2 separate regions of the Homo sapiens genome follow, and region 2 is linked to region 1. Evidence: fine-mapped expression QTL. A gene starts in region 1. The other region holds a variant in brackets. All regions are shown on one strand. Distances are between the middles of the regions.

Region 1 (11,107 bases):
GGGAAACTGAGACAGGAGAATCGCTTGAACCCAGGAGGCGGAGGTTGCACTGAGCCGAGATCACAGCACTGCACTCCAGCCTGAGCGACAGAGCAAGACTCTGTCTCAAAAAAATAAATAAAATAAATAAATAAAAATAAAATGTAAATGTGCCAGAAAGTTCTGGATTTGAGGTACATGTTGCTATGTGGAAGAGAGTCTGAGGCCAGCTCAAGCAGAAGGATGACAGGGCCAGGACTAAGATAAGAGTATCACAGAAGACTCATGCTGGGGATCATTTGTAGTCCTTGGAGATGCCACGAGGACTCCTAAAGGCCTGGCAGCCACTGGGGATTGCAGAACATTGAAGCTGGCAAGCTTTATCTAAACCCTTCTCCATCACCCTCCAAAAGAACTATATCAAGTGACTTTGAGGGTTGGATTTTGTGTTCTGATTTCTGAGGGCTCCTCAAGAGGAACAGAAATTATTCCATGAAAACTTTTCATTCCACAGTAAAACTTGAAATGCACATGAGTGAATGAGGAACAGCGAAGCACATCAGTCAAGGAGCAGGCAGGAATGACGAGGCTGTCAGCCGTGATGTAGGGCTGAGAAGGGGAGCCTGAGCACAAAAGGCATTTCCACAATCTTCCCAGCTTCACCTTTTTTGGGTCCCTCCCACCCCGCTCTTTAGTGACTGCTACTGGACAGCAGTAAAGTCTGTTTTGTTTTTCATGTGACCCCCACCCTGACTCACAAAGCCCTGTCATCTCCCAAGGATTTGTTGCCTGGATTACAGTATTTTAGAAGGGGTGACCGTTAAGTGTTATGTACCCTCCTCTCCAGCCAACTTCCCCAGGAAGCCTTCCAGCCCTAAGAAAAGGCTGCAACTGTACCCAGAAAGACTCTAGGACCCAGATCCTCCCTTCCCTCCACAACTGAAACCCAAACACTTAACGGCTCCCTGGGCTTGTTTTACGTGCAGGCTCCAAGTCCCACATACCCTAAATACTAGGCAGAGAAGATTATCACTACTGAGTGTTTTGTTCTGCAAGCCCGAGGAGAGCTGTGACTGACTTTGAACTATGGGGCCATGGGTCTGCCCATACCATCTTGCCAGTTCTCAGGCAGGGCGAGTTCTCAGGCCTGGGTTCCAGGTTTTTCACTCAGCATAGAAAGCAGGTTGCATTTACAGTTTTCAGGGGTTCTTTTTTTTCCCTCCTGCATGCTGGCGCCAAAACTTTCTTTCCTGGTAAAACACACTCTTATCTTTCTCACTCACAACGTCTCAAGATTTTAGTGGCTACATACAGTTCTATCCAATCACAGAATCAGCTCAAATATGGAACAGCTCACACTATATTTTCAAGAATATTACTGTTTTAGATTTTAATTGGGCATAAATTTCCTAAATTTTACTAGGTCATCTTGAAAGTTACAGCTGGTTTCCAAGCAGTTTTTTTTTGTTTTTTTTTTTGAGACAGATTCTCATTCTGTTGCCCAGGTTGGAGTGCATTGGCAGATCATGGCTCACTGCAACCTCTGCCTCCCAGGTTCAAGTAATTCCCCTGCCTCAGCTTCCCCAGTAGCTGGGATCACAGGTGTGCACCACCCACCAGTCTCACCAGTTAATTTTTGTATTTTTAGTAGAGACGGGGTTTCACCATACTGGCCAGGCTGGTCTTGAACTCCTGACCTCAAGTGATCCTCCCGCCTCAGCCTCCCAAAGTGCTGGGATTACAGGCGTGAGCTACTGCGGCTGGCCTCAAAGCAGTTTTTAACTGCAAAATGGGTCCTTATTCCCCGGGTCTAGAGTGATATAATTAAGTCTTTTTCTTTGGGGGTACAGGGGGGAAGTTTTTCCTCATAAAAAATGACTCTTCAGCAAGTACACATTTCTAATGGCCAATGCACAGCACAGCAGCTTAACCAACACAAGGGTGTCTTAACCTTCACAACAGATCATTATGGAATGTGATAGGAATTGCTACAAATTACTCTTGGCTGCTACTAGGATGACACTATGAGAATAGTTATGTTGTTCCGAAAAAGACCATTCTGTACAGCTTGCCCAAAAGTGGATGGACACACCCCCAGGAAAATGAGCATTAGACCCACCATCCCTGAGAGCTGGGGAGAGGCCTCATTTTGGTCTGACCTTCTTATAGCCTCTTGTTCACTTCTAGATGACTAAAGAGAACCCAAAGCACGCGAGGCGGCCCTTACACCTTCCTGGGTCTAGAAACAGACTAATCCACCTGCAGGGCAGTGACACTTAAAGCCCCATCTGGGATGCAGAATGCAAGTGGGTTGTTGGCCTCAGCCAGGCCTCTCGCCTTTCTAGTCAGGAGATATGGCACAATCTGAAAGGCTGGAAATCCAATGTGTCTCAGGATTTGTTCATTCCTGAGTTGTCTCCAGGTTCTTTCTTTATAAAGCTTATTTTATCCCAGAAAATGTCCACACAGTTGCACAGTTTGTCAGTGGGACAGATCTTGACCAAACATACGAACTGAGCCACAGTGTTCAAACACCTTGTTTGCATCCAGCCACCCACCACAGCCAACACCAAATACCTTTGGGTCATCAGCCTCAGGTTTTTCAGTCTCTGAATCGTCATCTTCCTACAAGACAAAGAATTTAGAGGATTAAGCTTAAAGGAGCGGGCCTGAGGAGTCTCACATGCATAACTAGGGGCCGGAGCAAACAGCCCATTTACCCAGCTGGGGTCATCCCACCAAGAATCCCTCCCCTACCATATAACTCAGAACCAGAGAAAAATAAGGGGAAAAAGAGATATTCTGGAGGGGAAAAAAACAAAAAACAAAAAAGCATCAGCAGCTCAAAGTCAAGTTACTTTAGTGGTGAGACAGTCCACATCAATGAAGATGCCCGAGTTCAAAGTCACATACATAAAAATGGAGAAAGCTTGCAATATGTTTTAGGAAAGAGTAAGATCAGGCCACACAATAAAACAGGCATCGTGTTTCCACTGAAGTATCAGTTATTTCAAATCAGGATTATGAGCCTTCTTTCCTTTTCATATACACATGTACATCAGACTCGGACCTACTCTAACAGTGTCCAACACCAAGTGCCAAGGCTTACACACAGCTGTATCGCAGCACCTCAACCGGCATTTGCACAAACATCAACACAGGAAGGCAGGCATCAAACTACCTGAGCAAGTGACCTGGGAAAGGCAGGACTAAAGGGCAATGCCCAACCTTTCAGGAGTCCCAGTTGAGTGGGCTCTGCCTCCACCTAAGTGCTCACAGAACTGCCAGTGATCCATTCTACCCAGTCCTGTTCCTTATCCAGATGAGGTCAGCCTGACACAAAGGATCACACACGGTAAGGCATTCTCCAAAGCGAGCCCGCCATTCCACTGAACGCTAACGCTGATGCTATGAAGGTCAAAGATCAGGAGCAGATGCTGGACCAGCTACCTTATTAGCTGGCTAAATCCATGTCACCTCCACTACCCAGAACACTCCCAATGCACAGAAGCCTTTAACTAAATACCCAGGAAAAAATGGTTTCATTTGAAACTACTATTTTCAACAAAGCTACATTTCAGCCCAAACATTACACAGCACTCCATATATTAATATAAATACCACTCGAGAGACTTGAACAAACTAGACTCATGATTTGGAGACTTAACTGTCCTGTAAGGTACCAGTGAGTCCAAGGCTTTAAATGCAATCTCCATAATCTCCTTAAAATGAAATCAGTCATGCCAAATAAACAGAGATGGAGCTCAGACAAATACAATCACATTTCAGAATCTCTACAACAAGATCTGATGAGAGGATTTTACTAAAATATGAAATGAAGCTTAAACATGATGAAAATTCTAAGCAAAGCAAATATGAAATAACACTTCAAAAACACATTATGCAAACGTACTAAAGAAAAGAGTTATGAATATTAAGCCAGAATGTGTGTACTTCAGAAAAGTCAGAAAACAACTTGCAAAACTTTTCTGAATAATTTCAGTCAACTCTGAATTATCAATATTAATGGATGGGGCTAAAGGCATGAAAGTATCTCCCAAAATGCATCATGTACAAAACGCATTTCTGTTTGTTGTGGAAATAATTTTTTTTTTTTTTAAGATGGAGTCTGGCTCTGTTGCCCAGGCTGGAGTGCAGTGGCGTGATCTCGGCTCACTGCAACCTCCGCCTCCCGGGTTCAAGCGATTCTCCTGCCTCAGCCTCCCGAGTAGGTGGGACTACAGGTGCGTACCACCATGCCCTGCTAATTATTGTATTTTTAGTAGAGATGGGGTTTCACCATGTTGGCCAAGATGGTCTTGATCTCCTGACCTTGTGATCCGCCCACCTCAGCCTCCCAAAGTGCTGGGATTACAGGCATGAGCCACCGTGCTTGGCTGGAAAGAATTTTAATGCTAACATTTACATACCAACATGTAACAAAAATTTCAAACAAATAATATATTTTAAGTGATTTAATTAAAACTTGCTAAGCAGTCAGATTTGACATCTAGACTCAACTCTGCCTGTCTTATGCTAAGCACCAACTTCAATTTCCTTGCGTTTTCTGCAAACTTAAATTCTGGCTCATGTTGCTCAGGTGATTATGTGTCTAAAGACTTTCTTGTTAATAATAGCACAGGTTCTCCTTTCTCCAGCACCTACTGAACTTCAGGCAAGATTTGTGATCAAGAACTAAGGGCACCATTATAAAAAGTGCCAAATAAAATGTCAAGAAAGAAGTTAAGAAGGCCAGGGATGGTGGCTCATACCTGTAATCCCAGCACTTTGGGAGGGTGAGGCAGGGGAATTGCTTGAGGCCAGAAGTTTGAAACCAGACTGGGAAACATAGTGAAACAACGTCTCTACAAAAAATTTTTTTTTAAATTTTAAAAATCGGCCAGGAGCAGTGGCTCACGCCTGTAATCCCAGCACTTTGGAAGGATGAGGCGGGTGGATCACCTGAGGTCAGGAGTTAGAGACCAGAATGGCCAACATGGTGAAACCGTCTCTGTGAAAAATACAAAAATTAGCCAGGCGTGATGGCAGGTGTCTGTAATCCCAGCTACTCAGGAGGCTGAGGGCAGGAGAATTGCTTGAACCTGGGAGGTGGAGGTTGCAGTGAGCAGAGATCGCACCACTGCACTCCAGCATGGGCGACAGAGCAAGATTCCGACAAAAAAAAATAATAATAGGTTAGCTAGGCATGGTGGCGCCCACCTGTAGTCCCAGCTACTGGGTAGGCTGAGGTGGGAGGATCACTTGCGCCCAGGAGTTCAAGACTGTAGTGAACTATCTATGATCACACCACTGCACTCCAATCTGGACAGCAGAGTGAGACCCTATCTCAAAAAAAAAAAAGAAAAGAAAAAGCAGGTGAAAACGAATTTTCCTTTCTTATCTTGTTAATAAACTGAGAAGACTTAAATGAGCCCCAACCAAGATTAAAAATAATGCAGAGTTGACTGTAGATATAAATGATACACCAGTTAGGATGAATGCCTGCTATAAATGGAGTAAATCATTTAAACAGGGAAAAATCAACATAAAACACCCATTGATATCTGGGTTAAATAAAATAATCCACTATCTTTTCCCCCAAATTTCAATTCAAAGATTAATAAAAAATGATCCATGTGAAAATACATTTTCAAACAGATCTGATATCCAATCCAGTTTCTTCCACTAATACTAAAACAAAACGGGAGAGCAAGGGATGGAGCTAACCATGAAATGGAACACTGTTGGCACAGTTCCAAAATCTGACAAATGAAATTGTGCTTTCAGTAGCTCTGGATCTGGGAGATTTACCTACCGACTGTCTACTGTTCTCATCTTCTTCTTCTTCATAACCATCTTCATCACCCCCTAGACGAGAAAAGTCATCCTCCCCATAGGCATCAGATACCAATCCGCCTTTCTCCTCTGAAAGGTTAAAAAACAAACAAACAAACAAAAAGCAAGAAAAAAAAAACAAGAGTTACAATGTAAGAAAAAATGTCCAGAGATTTGAGTGGCCAAGACTATCTCTGAAGATACAAAGGGAACCTAAATCTCATGTTAAGTTACAATAGGCCCAGATTCGGCTCTCTGAGAAGGCCAGCATTTACTGAATAAAATCATTAAAAGGTCAGGGAACAAAACCGAGTACTAAATTCTGTTTCTAATGCTATAAACACTAGATAAACACTAAAGTGTTTATAGGAAACCATCAGAGAACTTTCTGACTGGAAGAGACCACACAAAATCACAAAACATGGAAGTACCTAACCTAATCCAATCCCCTTCACTTTCCAGATGAGGAAGCTAAGGTCCTGATATGTTGTTAGGTAACTTGTTCTTTATTCTCCCAAAGGAATCTGTTTCCATTATCTAACATTGTGCTTCTCAACCTGAGGAGGAGAACATCACCGTTAGGCTTTAAAAACTCACAAAATAAGAAAAATCACCTGGGATCCTTAAAAAGTTCACAAATGCCCACATCCTACCCCAGTTCTACCGAATTAGGTTCTCTCACTTTGGGCATCAGATACGTTTGTTTTTAAAAGCTCCAAGATGTGTTTAGGGCACATTCCTAACTAAAAGTTATAAAGTTAACGAACACAATCTTTACCATCTTCCACGTATGTTTTACTTATCGCTCTCCCTCATCAAACAACGAGCCCAGGGGAAACAGGCAGTGGCTGAGCAGCCGCTCCCTCTTCGTCCATCCCTCTGTCTATCACTATAGCCGGCACGGAGTCTTTCAGTAAGTTTAGGCAAATTAATCGAAATAACGGGAAGGAGATTCTTCATTCTTAGTCCACAGTCTCTAATGCTCTATCTCACCCCGGACCCTGGACCATTCTTCGGGGTCCGGTGCTTGGAGCACAATGACCATCTTGTTCCCTCCCGCCCAGCGAGGGTACAGCATTCCGGGCAGACACCCGATTCCCCCTTCCAGCTTCGCACTTGGGCCTTACCAGCCGCGCTGCCCACCGCCTCGATTCCAGCCTCGCCATCAGACTCGGGCTCTGAATCTTCCGCGTAAACTGCGAGAGACGACAGAACATTCTTCTTCCCCGCCATCTTATTCCCACAGCCCGGGCGTGGCTCACTCCTATGACTCAAGACGCCGACTTCCGGGCGGAAAGGCAGGTTCTTTCGGATCCCAGGAGACCCCCGCGCCACACTGGAAACCAATCAAAACGGCAGTTTCCTGCGCCTGGCTCCGCCCTCATGCCAGCGCTCGCGCTACGTCATCACTGCGCGACGGATATAAGATTGCGTGGGTTCTGCCTAAAGCTGAATTCCCAGCGCTTTGGCTTCTCTGAGTTGGGGTTGTGTATAGGGGTCTTCGAACAGTTCCGGAACCAGCCAGCAGCCTTTAATTCTTGGGCGGACCACGGCCGGTTCTGATATCTTAGGGTGAAGAGAGGGAGGTGTCGGCCAGCCAAGAGAGAAAATTGCGGATCTTGGGCTCAGGAAGACGGGAGAAGGGGTTCGGGGTCCCGGGGTGGAAGAACGGTCGTCGTGGTTGCGCTTATAGAAGTAGGAGCAGGTGGTGGATCTTAGGAAAACGGTTCCCCGTTCTCCAAGCTGTTCTGAAGACATTTATGTTTCTTCTCTTGATCTGATTTCTAGCTCTGTGCTATACCGTGGCCTGGAATAGTTCAATGTTTTCATTTTCATTGAGCGTAAAAGTGGAGATGTTAATTACTGAGGAATGTATTGCTTGAGGCAGTTCACCTTCAGCTTTATTACTTAAAAATAATACATTATTTAAGTGTAATATAGCAAATTGTTACAGAAAAATAATCTGTATTTTTAATGCAAAACAGAGGGTTCTCGTGGCAACCTTTTACTACCTTTGCCTTAACCTTTGGCCACTGTTCTTGGCTAAGATGAGCAGCCACCATACCACCTTTCCTTTTGACCCTGAGCGGCGAGTCCGGAGTACGCTGAAGAAGGTCTTTGGGTTTGACTCTTTTAAGACGCCTTTACAGGAGAGTGCGACCATGGCTGTAGTAAAAGGTAACATTACCAAGCTACCTTCCTTTAAATTTATGCTGGCTATACCATAACGCTGCGGCAGAACACCCTCCTCCTCACCCTTCGTACTGCCTCACCTTTGGTCCATAACTGGATTTGGAAATCTTTAGAGTTGTCAAAGCTTGTAGTTTCGTTTATTTGTTTTAATTAGAGATGGGGTCTTGGCATGTTGCTCAGGCTGGTCTCCAAATCCTGGGCTCAGGCAATCCTCCCACCTCGGCCTCCCAAGGTGCTGGGATTACAAGCATGAGCCACCACGCCCGGCCCAAAGCTTGTAGTTTTAGTGGCAGAACCACCCAGCTGGTCTATATTTCATAGCTAGATTTACACATGGTCTTTGAAAACACTTCAGATTCTCATTATTGTTCGTTTGTACACACAAACGAACAGCAACAGTGAGGGTGGTAGGAATAACTTAACTCGGTCACTGGCCTCCTAGGTAATTCCCTTGTTGCAGGTTGAGTGGCCTTGGTCCCAGATAGAGAAGGAAAGAGTAATAATGTTATAAACCTGAGATACGGTGACAAATGGAAGTTGCCAAGAGGCGAGCAGCAATGTAATATTAATGATACATGTCTAAACAAAAGCCCTCTAAGTAATGTCCTCTCATGTCTACACAGATGTACCCACTCATCTAGCAGTACTCTGCTTTCATGGCTGTTTAGTTCAATCATCCATATCACAGCAGACTCAGACTTCTTTTTTTTTTTTTTTTTTTTTGAAACAGAGTCTTGCTCTGTCGCCCACACTGGAGTGCAGTGGCGCGATCTCGGCTCACTGCAACCTCCGCCTCCTGGGTTCAAGCAATTCTCCTGCTTCAGCCTCCTGAGTAGCTGGGATTACAGGCACGTGCCACCATGCCTGGGTAATTTTTGTATTCTTAGTAGAGACAGAGTTTCACCATGTTGGCCAGGCTGGTCTCAAACTCTTGCCCTCGTGATCTGCCTGCCTTAGCCTCCCAAAGTGCTGGGATTACAGGCGTGAGCCACTGCGCTTGACCCAGACTTTTTAAATCTTGTTTTTAACCATTACTAGAAATGGTTTGGGCATGTATCCAAGTTTCCCAGGATCCTTGCCTTTTTCATAGAAAGGACAGGAGGGGAATTAGGATTACATCGAGACCCTCCCATGTGCCAGACACTCTGCTAGGTGCTTTTCCTACATTCTCATTTAATTTTCAACAACTTCAATGAAAAGGCAGGAAGCACTGAGATATTGTTGTCTTGTATTTTTTCAGGTAACAAGGACGTCTTTGTGTGCATGCCCACAGGGGCAGGAAAATCCCTATGCTATCAGCTCCCTGCTCTGTTGGCCAAAGGCATCACCATTGTAGTCTCTCCTCTCATTGCTTTGATTCAGGTGAGGCTTAGGGCAATGAAGATGGTAGCCCAAAAAGATTCGGGGAAGGTTTTTTGAGGCTGGAAATTTCACTTCTCTATTGGTCTTTTGCCTCTTATTTTCTTTTCTTTTTCTTTTTCCTTTTTTTTTTTTTTTTTTGAGACAGAGTCTTACTCTGTCGCCTAGGCTGAAGTGCGGTGGTGCGATCTTGGCTCACTGCAGCCTCCACCTCCCGGCTTCCAGCAATTCTTGTGCCTCAGCCCCCCATATAGCTGGGATTACAGGTGTATGCCACCATACCCGGCTAATTTTTGTATTTTTAGTAGAGATGAGGTTTCACCATGTTGGCCAGGCTGGTCTCAAACTCCTGACCTCAAATGATCCGCCCACCTCGGCCTCCCAAAGTGCTGGGATTACAGGTGTGAGCCACCACACCCGCCCCTGCCTCTTATTTTCTATGATTTGCCTATCTCATTCGCTATATTGGGTTTCTGTATTTCCCCAATGTAGTGTTCTCCACTGGTGCATATCACTCTGGGAGGTTATGAATGACTCCTCTGAGGTCCCTCACCCTCCTTTGTTATTTTTTTGTTCAGAGGAGTATGAAACTGTATTTGTACACACATATACACTCAGTCTCATGTATACACACACGTGCACTCGTGATGTTGAGACAGAAGTTGCAGATGGATAGATAGCTAAGTTGATATGGGGAATCCCTGGTGTCCTGCTTATTTTGGTAAGGGCACAGTATGTGAAACAGAAAAAAAGATGAGAAACTGTCTGGGACCTTATTAACATCTGCTCTACAGGTGTTCTGACTATTTAAGGCCTGCAGATGGGCTGATAGAATCAGAATTGAGGAAGTGTGGCTGTGTGGGTAAGAGCCATCCACCATGAAGGAAGGTAGAGAGGGAACTACAGTAATAACTTGGTGAATGTTCACCAGGTCCCAGGCTTCGTGCTAAGTGCTTTACATACATTAATTTCTTTCTTTCTTTTTTTTTTTTTTTTTTTGAGATGGAGTTTCGCTCTTGTTGCCCGGGCTTGAGTGCAATGGCGTGTTCTCGGCTCACCGCAACCTCCGCCTCCCGGGTTCAAGCAGTTCTCCTGCCTCAGTCCCCCGAGTAGCTGGGATTACAGGCATGCGCCACCATGCCTGGCTAATTTTGTATTTTTAGTAGAGACAGGGTTTCACCATATTGGTCAGTCTGATCTCGAACTCCTGACCTCAGGTGATCTGCCCGCCTCAGCCTCTCAAAGCGCTGGAATTACAGGTGTGAGCCACCGCGCCCGGCTTACATACGTTAATTTCACCTCTCAGATGTAAATTTTAAGTTATACAACAATGCTATTAGATAGAATTGTATAAATCGTTCAGAGGGTAAGAAACAGCCAGCGAGCATGTGGCGATTAAGTGAGCCAGGATGAAATCTAAATCTGAAGTCTGTCTGACTTCAGAGCCTGTGCTCTAAACCACTTCACCTTCCATAGAGATTGAGCATCCCTAAAGCAAAAATCTGAAATCTGAAATGCTCCAAAATCCAAAAAATTTTAGTGCTGACGTGATTCCACAAGTGGAAAGTTCCACACCTTTCTGACCTCATGTGATGGGTTGCGGTCAAAACTCAGCCAAAACTGTTTTTTCATGCACAAAATTATTATTATTATTTTTAATATATATTTTTTATTATACTTTAAGTTCTAGGTACATGTGCACAACGTCATGTCAAAATTATTAAAAATATATAAAATTACA
Region 2 (8,000 bases), 50 kb after region 1:
CTGCAACTCCTACCTCAGGTGATCCACCTGCCTCGGCCTCCCAAAGTGCTGGGGTTACAGGCGGGAGCCGCCGCGCCCGGCCCCTGCTTCTCTGATCTCTTACTCATCTCTGCTGGCTCCACCTTAACTCCCTGACCTCTGAGCGGTGCTGTGCCCTTGAACCTCTCTCTGTCTGCCCTTCTCCCCGTGTCCTCAGCTGGTCCCATTTGATGACTCCTGGTGCCTGCCTCCAGCCTTCTCCCTTGAACCCCAGACTCCTCCACTGGGAAGTCTGGGATTTCAGACCTCACGTGTCCAAAACAGATTTCCTCCACCAGCCAAGACCTGCTCCTTGAAGACAGTAGTTGTCCTCCTTCCCGTAGCCCACATGCAATTGGTCAGCACACTCTGCTGGCTCAATCTTCTGCTTCTCCCTTGCTGCCAGCACCATCCCTCACCTGGGACCACTGCAATAACTTCCTTTTGCTTTTAAACTTAGACACCCAGAATCTCAAACAACAGCCGAGTGACCCTGTGAAATGTAAGCCGAGTCTCTCTCCAGAATCCTCTGGTGGTTTCCCATCTCTCCAAAAATCAGAGGCCAATGATGGCTACAAGGCCTGTGGTGGCCTGGACCCACCATCCGCTCCCCATCCTCATCCTCCGTTCTCCCTGCAGCTCACTAGGCTCAGCCACGCTGGTCCCGGTGCGTGATGGTGCCGAGGCTTCCCCCCACATCTGAACTGTTGCCTGCCCTTCTCTGTCACCCCGTGCTCACTCCTTCCCTCCCTGTAGGAAGGCTTCTGCCACAAAGCCTTCTCCACTGCAGCAGCCCCTTCCCTGCATTCTTACTCTCCAGTGACCTCTCACTCCCAGACACATAAGTTATCTCATTGTAAGCACTGCAGAGACTTAGCCTGTTGGCTTCACAGCCACACCCCCCTGCACGCAATGGGTGCTCAGTAAATACTTTGGAATGATTTGAAGGACAGTGACCAAGAGAAGGGGATCTCCTTCAGGCCCAGACAGGAGGACAGGCACAGGCGCTGGGGGTCGCACAGCCCAGGCTTACCTTCAGCAGTTCATAGAGCAGATCCATCTCATCCTTGCCCCGGGGCTTGGACTGGTCACCCATAAACCGCATCAGGGCTGCAGGCACGATAAGAAACAGGGCACATAGCTGGGGCTGTGCTGGGGCTGGCCCCGGCTCATGCTGTTGCTGTGCAGGGCCTTCACCTGCCATCTGATGCCTCACTCTCAAAATGCATAGATGCCAGCCAGGGCAGCTGGTTGCAGCTCGACTCATGGGGAAACTGAGGCTCCTGGGTATCCAAGGCCCCACACAGCACATAGCATCCTCTGGACCCATGGACTGCCTTCCAACCCCAGACTCCACACAACCCACAACCCTTGAGTGGGAGTAGAAGCGGGTGAGGGCCCTGGGGTCCAGGAACCACCAGTGAGCTTCCCGGAGTTGGCAGACTGGGACAGAGCCAGGCAGAGCTCAAGGAGATAAGGGGACCAGACACCCAGGTTCATGGCACTGCAGACATGGGGACCCAGGATGCCTGTGGCCACTCACCCAGGAAGCTGGCTACAGCCAGCTTGCTCACATCATCACTGAGGCTGAGGAGCGACTCCTGGATGGGAGCCTGTGGCCAAAGAGAGGAGGCCATGGGTCTGGGGGGCCGTGGGGGTCAGAGGGCAGATCTACGGGCCAGACCCCTCCCTGCCTCTCTCCCACCTTGGTGTACTGCACCAGGCTGTCCGTGTCCTTTCCTGCGGCACCTCCATCAGTCTGGCCCAGCCTGTGGGGGGCAGAGGGAGACAGCCCAGCTTGTTTGGCCCTCCTGCCTTCATCCCAGCCAGCCAGGCAGGGAGAGTGCTAAGAGCACAGCCCAGTGGCTCTGAGCAGGGTGCTCTCTCTCAGGAAGACTGAGGACAGACAGGCACAGGGGTTGGCCCAGTGCACTCACAAGGCCTGGGACCTCCGGAAGTAACGCCGGGCGAATTCCTGCATGGTGTAGCTGTGGGAGTCGGGCAGAAAGGCATAGGCCACAGAGGACAGGCTGGTGGCCTCCGAGTCGTCACTGTGTGCCTGGCTCCAAGGGTGGGCAGGGCGCTGGGATCACAAGAAACCTGGTGCCACCTGAGTGTCCAGTGCCCTGTCCCAGGGGTCCTGCCCCAGCCCCATCCCTCCCCAGCCAGACACCAAAGGAGCAAGACCAGAAGCCAGGAAAGTGAAGAGCTGTTTATTAAGCATCTGCTGGGGCAGCCTTGAACTAAGTACCACGTGGGACACAAGAGCAGCATCCAGCCCAGCCCCTGCCTGCAAGGAGTGCACAGTCTTGCTGGAGAGACAAGGCGAGCCATCAGGAGCGGGCAGAGGGGCAGCCACAGGAGACGGACAGCAGGGTGGTCCCACCGCATGGCAGCCTCGGGAGTGGTCAAACCCCTTTCCTTCCTCAGTCTCAGGCAGGCCTTGCCTCTGCTTGTCCCTCTCCCATCTTCCTCACCTCTGAGGCCCTGTCCCACCGAGCCAGCCCTGGTTCCCCGTTGGACAGCTGACCCTTGTGCCAGCCACTCCTCTGCTCCTTGGAGAAGGAAAAGTCGGGAGCGGCAGCCGGCTGCACTATGTCGGCAGGAAAGAGTCCGGAACGGCCCCCGGCAGAGCCAAACTGCCAGCCTGGAAGGCACCCAGGGATGTGGCTCACCCACTGGACCCTCTGCCCCCGGGCAGCCTCTGCCAAGTGGATGCCCTCCCTGTGTGAGCCCCTGCCGGCCTCTGGCGATACCTGGCTCCAGGGTGGCCACCGGCAGCAGCTTGATGAGGTCCCCACGGTGGAAGCTGAGGAGGCTGCAGTTGTCAGTGATGTAGCTGCGCAGGGCGATGACATAGCCGGAGTCCTGTGGGCAAGCAGGCGAGGGCCTGGAGCAGCAAGTCTGCCTGTGCCTCCCTGTCCTGCCTGCCCACCTGCTCCCCCTGCTGGCCTGCCCCTCCACCTAGCACCCCAGACTTC[CA/A]GGGATTTGGCCCAAACTCCCAGCCCCTGCCCCCACAGGGAAGACGGACAGGGAGATGCAGCATCGGTGAGGGCTGTCTGCCCGGCCTCTCAACCCGTGCCCCACACTTACCTTCTTAAGCTCATTCAGGAATAGCTCAACCAGCGCCTCGATGGCCCTTGCCCGGGCTGTGTGCAGCACCAGCTGCTCGCTCTTCAGTGACAGCTCCAGGGTGGAGCCGCCCCGGCACTCCACACCCAGCACCTCCGCAAAGCTGCGCAGGGATCGGGCATGAACTGAGGTCACCTTGCCACCTGCCCCCACCTCTAGCCCAGGGTCGTGGGCTAGCGCACCTGTATGAGCAGAGAATCTTCAGCTGGTCGGGGCGGAGGCCGGGGCCTTGGGTCACCTTGAGCAGTCGCAGCCCACGGTGGGACACGGCTAACAGCTGCACGTCGCTGCCACTCTCGCCCTACAGGAAGGTGGTGGGTCTCGGGCAGTCTCCTGGGTCCTGCTACTGCCCAAGATGCCCTGGAGCTGCCCAGGGCCAGTGGCTGGGCTTTGTCCTTCCCCTGGCGTCTGCTCCCCGGCTCTCCTGCTTGTGGTCTGTGCCCATGCACCCCAGGATCCAGGCTGGGGGCCTGGCATCCCTACTCCCTACCCCAGCGCCACTGACCGAGACAGGAAAGAAGCGGGAGAAGTAATTGGCCCAGTTGTCCCGAGCGGCCACCACGATGCGCTTCTTGACGCTGTCTTCGGTGGTGGTGAGAGAATCCAGGTCCACCTCCAAGCCTCCTGTGGGCAGGAAGGACCCAGGCTGCCCTCTGCTCACACAGAGGGGGCTCTAGAGTTTGCTCCCATGCTGCTCCCTCCTTCAGGGCAGGCGCGGCCCCCAGCACTCAAGCTCCCAACTCCATGGTCCCTGGACCCATACCCAGCAGGTCTTTCATTTTCCGCCGCTCATTCTGGGAAATCCGGATACAGGACTCGGAGAAGGTGTCCCGTAGGATCTGGGGGCAGAGCGAGGTGGTCACCACCAGGTCCTGAGACAGAGCCCACCCCCAGAGCAGCCATCCACATGCATGAAGGAAAACCTGAGGAGGCCGATGGAGGGCGCCCTGGCCCCCATGGCCTGTGTGCTCAGCAGAGGGCCTAGGTGGGGCAGGGAGGGATGGAGGGCTTGGGCCACCTCCATTCACACGTCTCACCTGTCCCCTCCCCTGCAACTGCCAGCCCTCCCTTTTCACTCACTGCCCAGAGACCCCGTGGTAACTGCCCTTGGATCAGCCCAGATACAAGATTGTTCGGGGCAGGGGGCAGGTGCTACTGCAGAATTAGGGGGAACAGAGGCTCACTCCTGGGAGCGTTCAGAGGTGGCAAAGTGACAACCATTTATTAAGTACCTACTGTGTGCTAGAGCCTGTGTTGTGCACTGTACGCACTTTGCTTTTAAACTTTATCTATAAAACTAGATGAATAATGGTCCCTACTTCTTGTTGTTGTTGAGACACAGTCTCGCTCTGTCACCCAGGCGGGAGTGCAGTGGCACAATCTCGGCTCACTACAACCTCTGCCTCCCGGGTTCAAGCAATTCTCCTGCCTCAGCCTCCCAAGTAGCTGGGGTTACAGGTGCGTGCCACCACGCCTGATTTTTGTATTTTTAATAGACATGGAGTTTCACCATGTTGGCCAGACTGGTCTCGAACTCCTGACCTCATGATCCACCTGCCTTGGCCTCCCAAAGTGCTGGGATTACAGGCATGAGCCACCGCACCTGGCCATGGTCCCTACTTCTCAGGAATGTTGTGAAGGTTCAATGAAGGCAGGTCTGGGCACACAGAAGTGCCCCCCAGTGCTGGCTGCCAACATGCCCTACGTGGTGTTAACCTGGCCCAGCCATTAGACAAAGGGCACGAAGGATGCTGTCTCTGCAGATGTCTCAGGCTGGCAGGTGGGCCAGCTCTCACCTGCTCACAGAGGAGCCTCAGGTAGTAGGGATGGCTGAAGTTCTCCCGTGGGTAGAACACCTGGAGGAGGGCACAGAAGGGCAAAGATCGGTGGGTCTGGTGCCTCTTCCCAGCAAGCCTCTGCCCTCCCAGGCCTGGAAAATCAGCCTTGAGATGGTGGGCTGTGGGGAGGGGATGCTGGGGTCCCAGGCTGGGATGCACAAAGCCTGCCGCCTCCCTGCCAGCCCAAAGAGGCCAGGCCAAGGCCCCACCCTCATGCCCACCTCCTTGCGTAGGAACAACTTCCAGGGCGTGCCGGTGTAGGAGAAGCACACGCTGCCAGAGGGCGCGAGTAGCTGGGTGGAGACCCCCTGGTCCTCCACGGGCTGTGTCAAGCCTGGCAGAGAGGAGGGGGTGAGGAGCCTCAGTGAGGGGCTGCAGAGCCAGAGTGATGGGGGCACGGGAGGGAAGACCTTCATCCCCACGAGCCTTCCAAGGGCCCGGCTCTCCCAACCTCCAGCTGCCTTACTCCTTCCATGGCACCATCTCCTGCCTCCATTTTGGGCCCTAAACTTTCCCTGGCGTCCGTGAGGCTCGTGGGTCTTCTATGACCATGTCAGCCAGGGCCACTAACTTCCTCACAGAGCTGTCGGGTATGTGTCAGGGACAACACCCTGTGTGTGACAGCCTCTCGATGACAGCCCCAAAGATGCCCAGGCCCTGCCCTGGGTGGGAACGCGGAAGCTGGGACTCCCCAGCTACGTATGGCTCCAAAGTCCAGAAGCCCGAACAGCTGGCCTCAGCCACGCAGAAATGCCTTCAGCCCTGGGCACCGAGAGTCTGTGCGAACCCTGCCTCTGCCCCAGTGAAGCCCACGGCGCAGGAGAAATGTGGTTCCTTACAACGACGCTCTGCTGAAAGGGTCCCTGGGTCCTCGGGCAGAGGCAGTGGTGGCGCTGGTGGAGGTGGGGGTGTGTGGGCAATAGGCAGCTTCTGGCCAAACAGGTCCAGAAGGGGCCCCTGCTTTTCCTTGATGGAGCTAGAGGGCCCAAGCTGTAGCGGGGCCTTGGGTCGAGGAGCCACAGCTGGCGGGGGGCCCTTTCCTGGGCTGGGGGACAGCATCTGGGGGGATACGGAGAAAGTACACGGGCTGAGTCACAGCACAAGGCCAAGTTCGCCCCAGAGAGCCTTGAGCTCCCCAGTGCAGCAGCACACACTCTGGGGGAGACAGGCTGGGGTGCTCACCGGCGGGGACGAGTGGGCACCGTTGATACCCAGCTTGGCCAGAGCCTCGTCCTTGGGGTCGATTTTCCTCAGGAAAGCTTTGGGAGGCCTCGTGGGAGAAGCAAGAGGTCACTAAGTTCATAGGGTGATTCCCCGAGGAGCGGGACAGCCCTGGCCACCTCCCCGTGGGGGCCCACCTGGATGGCTGCACGGGCACAGGCACGGGGCCCGGGCGGCTCTGGTACATGCGGATGATGTTGCCAATTTCCCTGCTGGGTTGTGGCCGCTTGGGCTTGGAGTCTGAGCTGCGCACCACAGTCCCCCTGCCTTGGGCTGGCCCTTGGCCATGGCCCTTGGCCGCTGTCTCCTTGGCTGGCTCAGCCTCAGCCTCTTTTGGAGCTTTGGCCCCACCTTGCTTCAATGGCTTCTTCACGATGGGGGGAGGAGGAGGGGACGGCACTGACCAGGAAACAGGAAAGACTGTTAACCGCGTGCAGAGCCACCGGAGCCCCAGGCCCTGCCCAGCTCCCCACAACCTGCTCTTGTTTCCACTTCTTGCTCCTCCTGCTCCTCCTCCTCCTCCTCCTCCTCCTCCTCCTCCTGCGCTTCCCCCTGGGGGATGTGGACCTTGGCCGGGGGCTTCATCGTCCTCACTGTGATCTGTGGCTGCCCTGCAAGTGTCCAGATGGCCTTCAAAGTTACCCATACTGGCCCAGCTGGGCTCCTGGATGGGCCGCACCAACTCCGGGGAGCAGAGCACACCCCACCCTCCCTGGCCCGGGCCAGGGGCACTGGCCATGTTTCTGCACGGTCCTGCCACCCCAAGTGCCCTCACCCATCCTCTGGAAATAGTTCCGTTTCTGCTGGAAGCTCTTGGGCTGATAGGGCCTGTCTTCAGCCTCCTCGGAGGTCTCCTGGCAGAAGCAGAAATGAGTGGCAGCTCAGCCAGCCTGGGTGCCACACTCGCCACACCCCTCGGGTCCCCAGTCCTGGGCCAGCAGCCTCTTCCCTGTGTCTGCCTACTCACCCTGCCCATGTCCCCTGCCCCTGCAGTCCCCACCCTCACATCCCTTCCTGAGAATATGGTCACCTCCTCACCCTCAGGCAGCCACCCTCTGATCCCAGGTCACGCTGTGGCTTCTCCGGGGGTGTGGGGGGCTTCCTGGGCTTGGAGGTGACGGCTGAGGGTGAGGCCTGGGACGCAGCCTCGGAGGCCCGAGCCTGCTGCTGCCGCTGCTGCATCTGCTGCTCCAGGGACAGGGACATGGCCTGGGCTGTCATCTGCTGGGCCTGAAGCAGGAGGAGCAGCCAGTTCAGACCCTCATCCCCGAGCCACAGACCTCTCCTCCACCAGGTGGCCCCAGGGCCCTGCCAGCGCTCACCAGGATTAGCGCCTGCTGCTGGATAAAGTTCTGCTGCTGGACGGCCAGCTGCCCTGCATCCAGGCTGGGAAGCGGTGGCTGCGGCGGCACCACCATGGCTGTGAGGGCGGCAGGCGGCCAGAGTGGTGGGCACCATGGCCAGCCTTGAAGCTCGCTGCCCACTGTGCACTCGGGACTCCTAGCAGGACCCTCCCTCCTCCAGTCCCAGAGCTGGTGGCTGCTCTCCTGAGAAGGGACTCTGGTGCCCCCAGCCCAGACTTACCTGGCATGGCAGGGACTGTGCCCATTGCTGGCATCATGGGCATGGGTGCAGGGACCATGCCTGGCTGGTATGCAGGCATCTGAATCATTCCTGGGTACACTGAGGGAACACGCCCTCCCTGTCAGTCCCTGCCTGGGCCCACATGCCACCTCCCTCCAGCCCCAGGCACAGAGAAGAGCATCGGGCACCGGGGTGCTGGCCAGGGCA

Evidence for each region. PIP is the estimated chance that this variant, and not a neighbour inherited with it, causes the effect. A credible set is the group of variants that fine-mapping cannot tell apart.
Region 2: its variant is the best candidate, but not a certain one, in a credible set for the expression of RECQL5 in fibroblasts (GTEx, PIP 0.88).

The regions. Positions count from the first base shown.
Region 1 is chr17:75,663,313-75,674,419 of GRCh38, reverse strand. RECQL5 (RecQ like helicase 5) reads left to right here and starts at 7,266. Exons shown (of 20, transcript NM_004259.7): 1 at 7,266-7,376; 2 at 7,849-7,992; 3 at 9,248-9,369. The coding sequence starts at 7,863. It overlaps SAP30BP (SAP30 binding protein), which reads right to left and starts at 7,082. Exons shown (of 11, transcript NM_013260.8): 1 at 6,942-7,082; 2 at 5,795-5,904; 3 at 2,557-2,604. The coding sequence starts at 7,047. RefSeq lists enhancers at 6,841-7,090, 7,261-7,360, 6,942-8,141.
Region 2 is chr17:75,615,132-75,623,131 of GRCh38, reverse strand. It overlaps MYO15B (myosin XVB), which reads right to left. Exons shown (of 64, transcript NM_001395058.1): 34 at 7,794-7,892; 35 at 7,532-7,629; 36 at 7,248-7,439; 37 at 6,985-7,063; 38 at 6,686-6,820; 39 at 6,347-6,608; 40 at 6,171-6,258; 41 at 5,828-6,047; 42 at 5,210-5,322; 43 at 4,947-5,006; 44 at 3,914-3,989; 45 at 3,656-3,774; 46 at 3,333-3,451; 47 at 3,112-3,253; 6 more. Among named protein-coding and RNA genes, the nearest start is that of SMIM5, 14 kb to the left of the region's middle. The variant CA/A (reference allele first, on the strand shown) is at 3,000.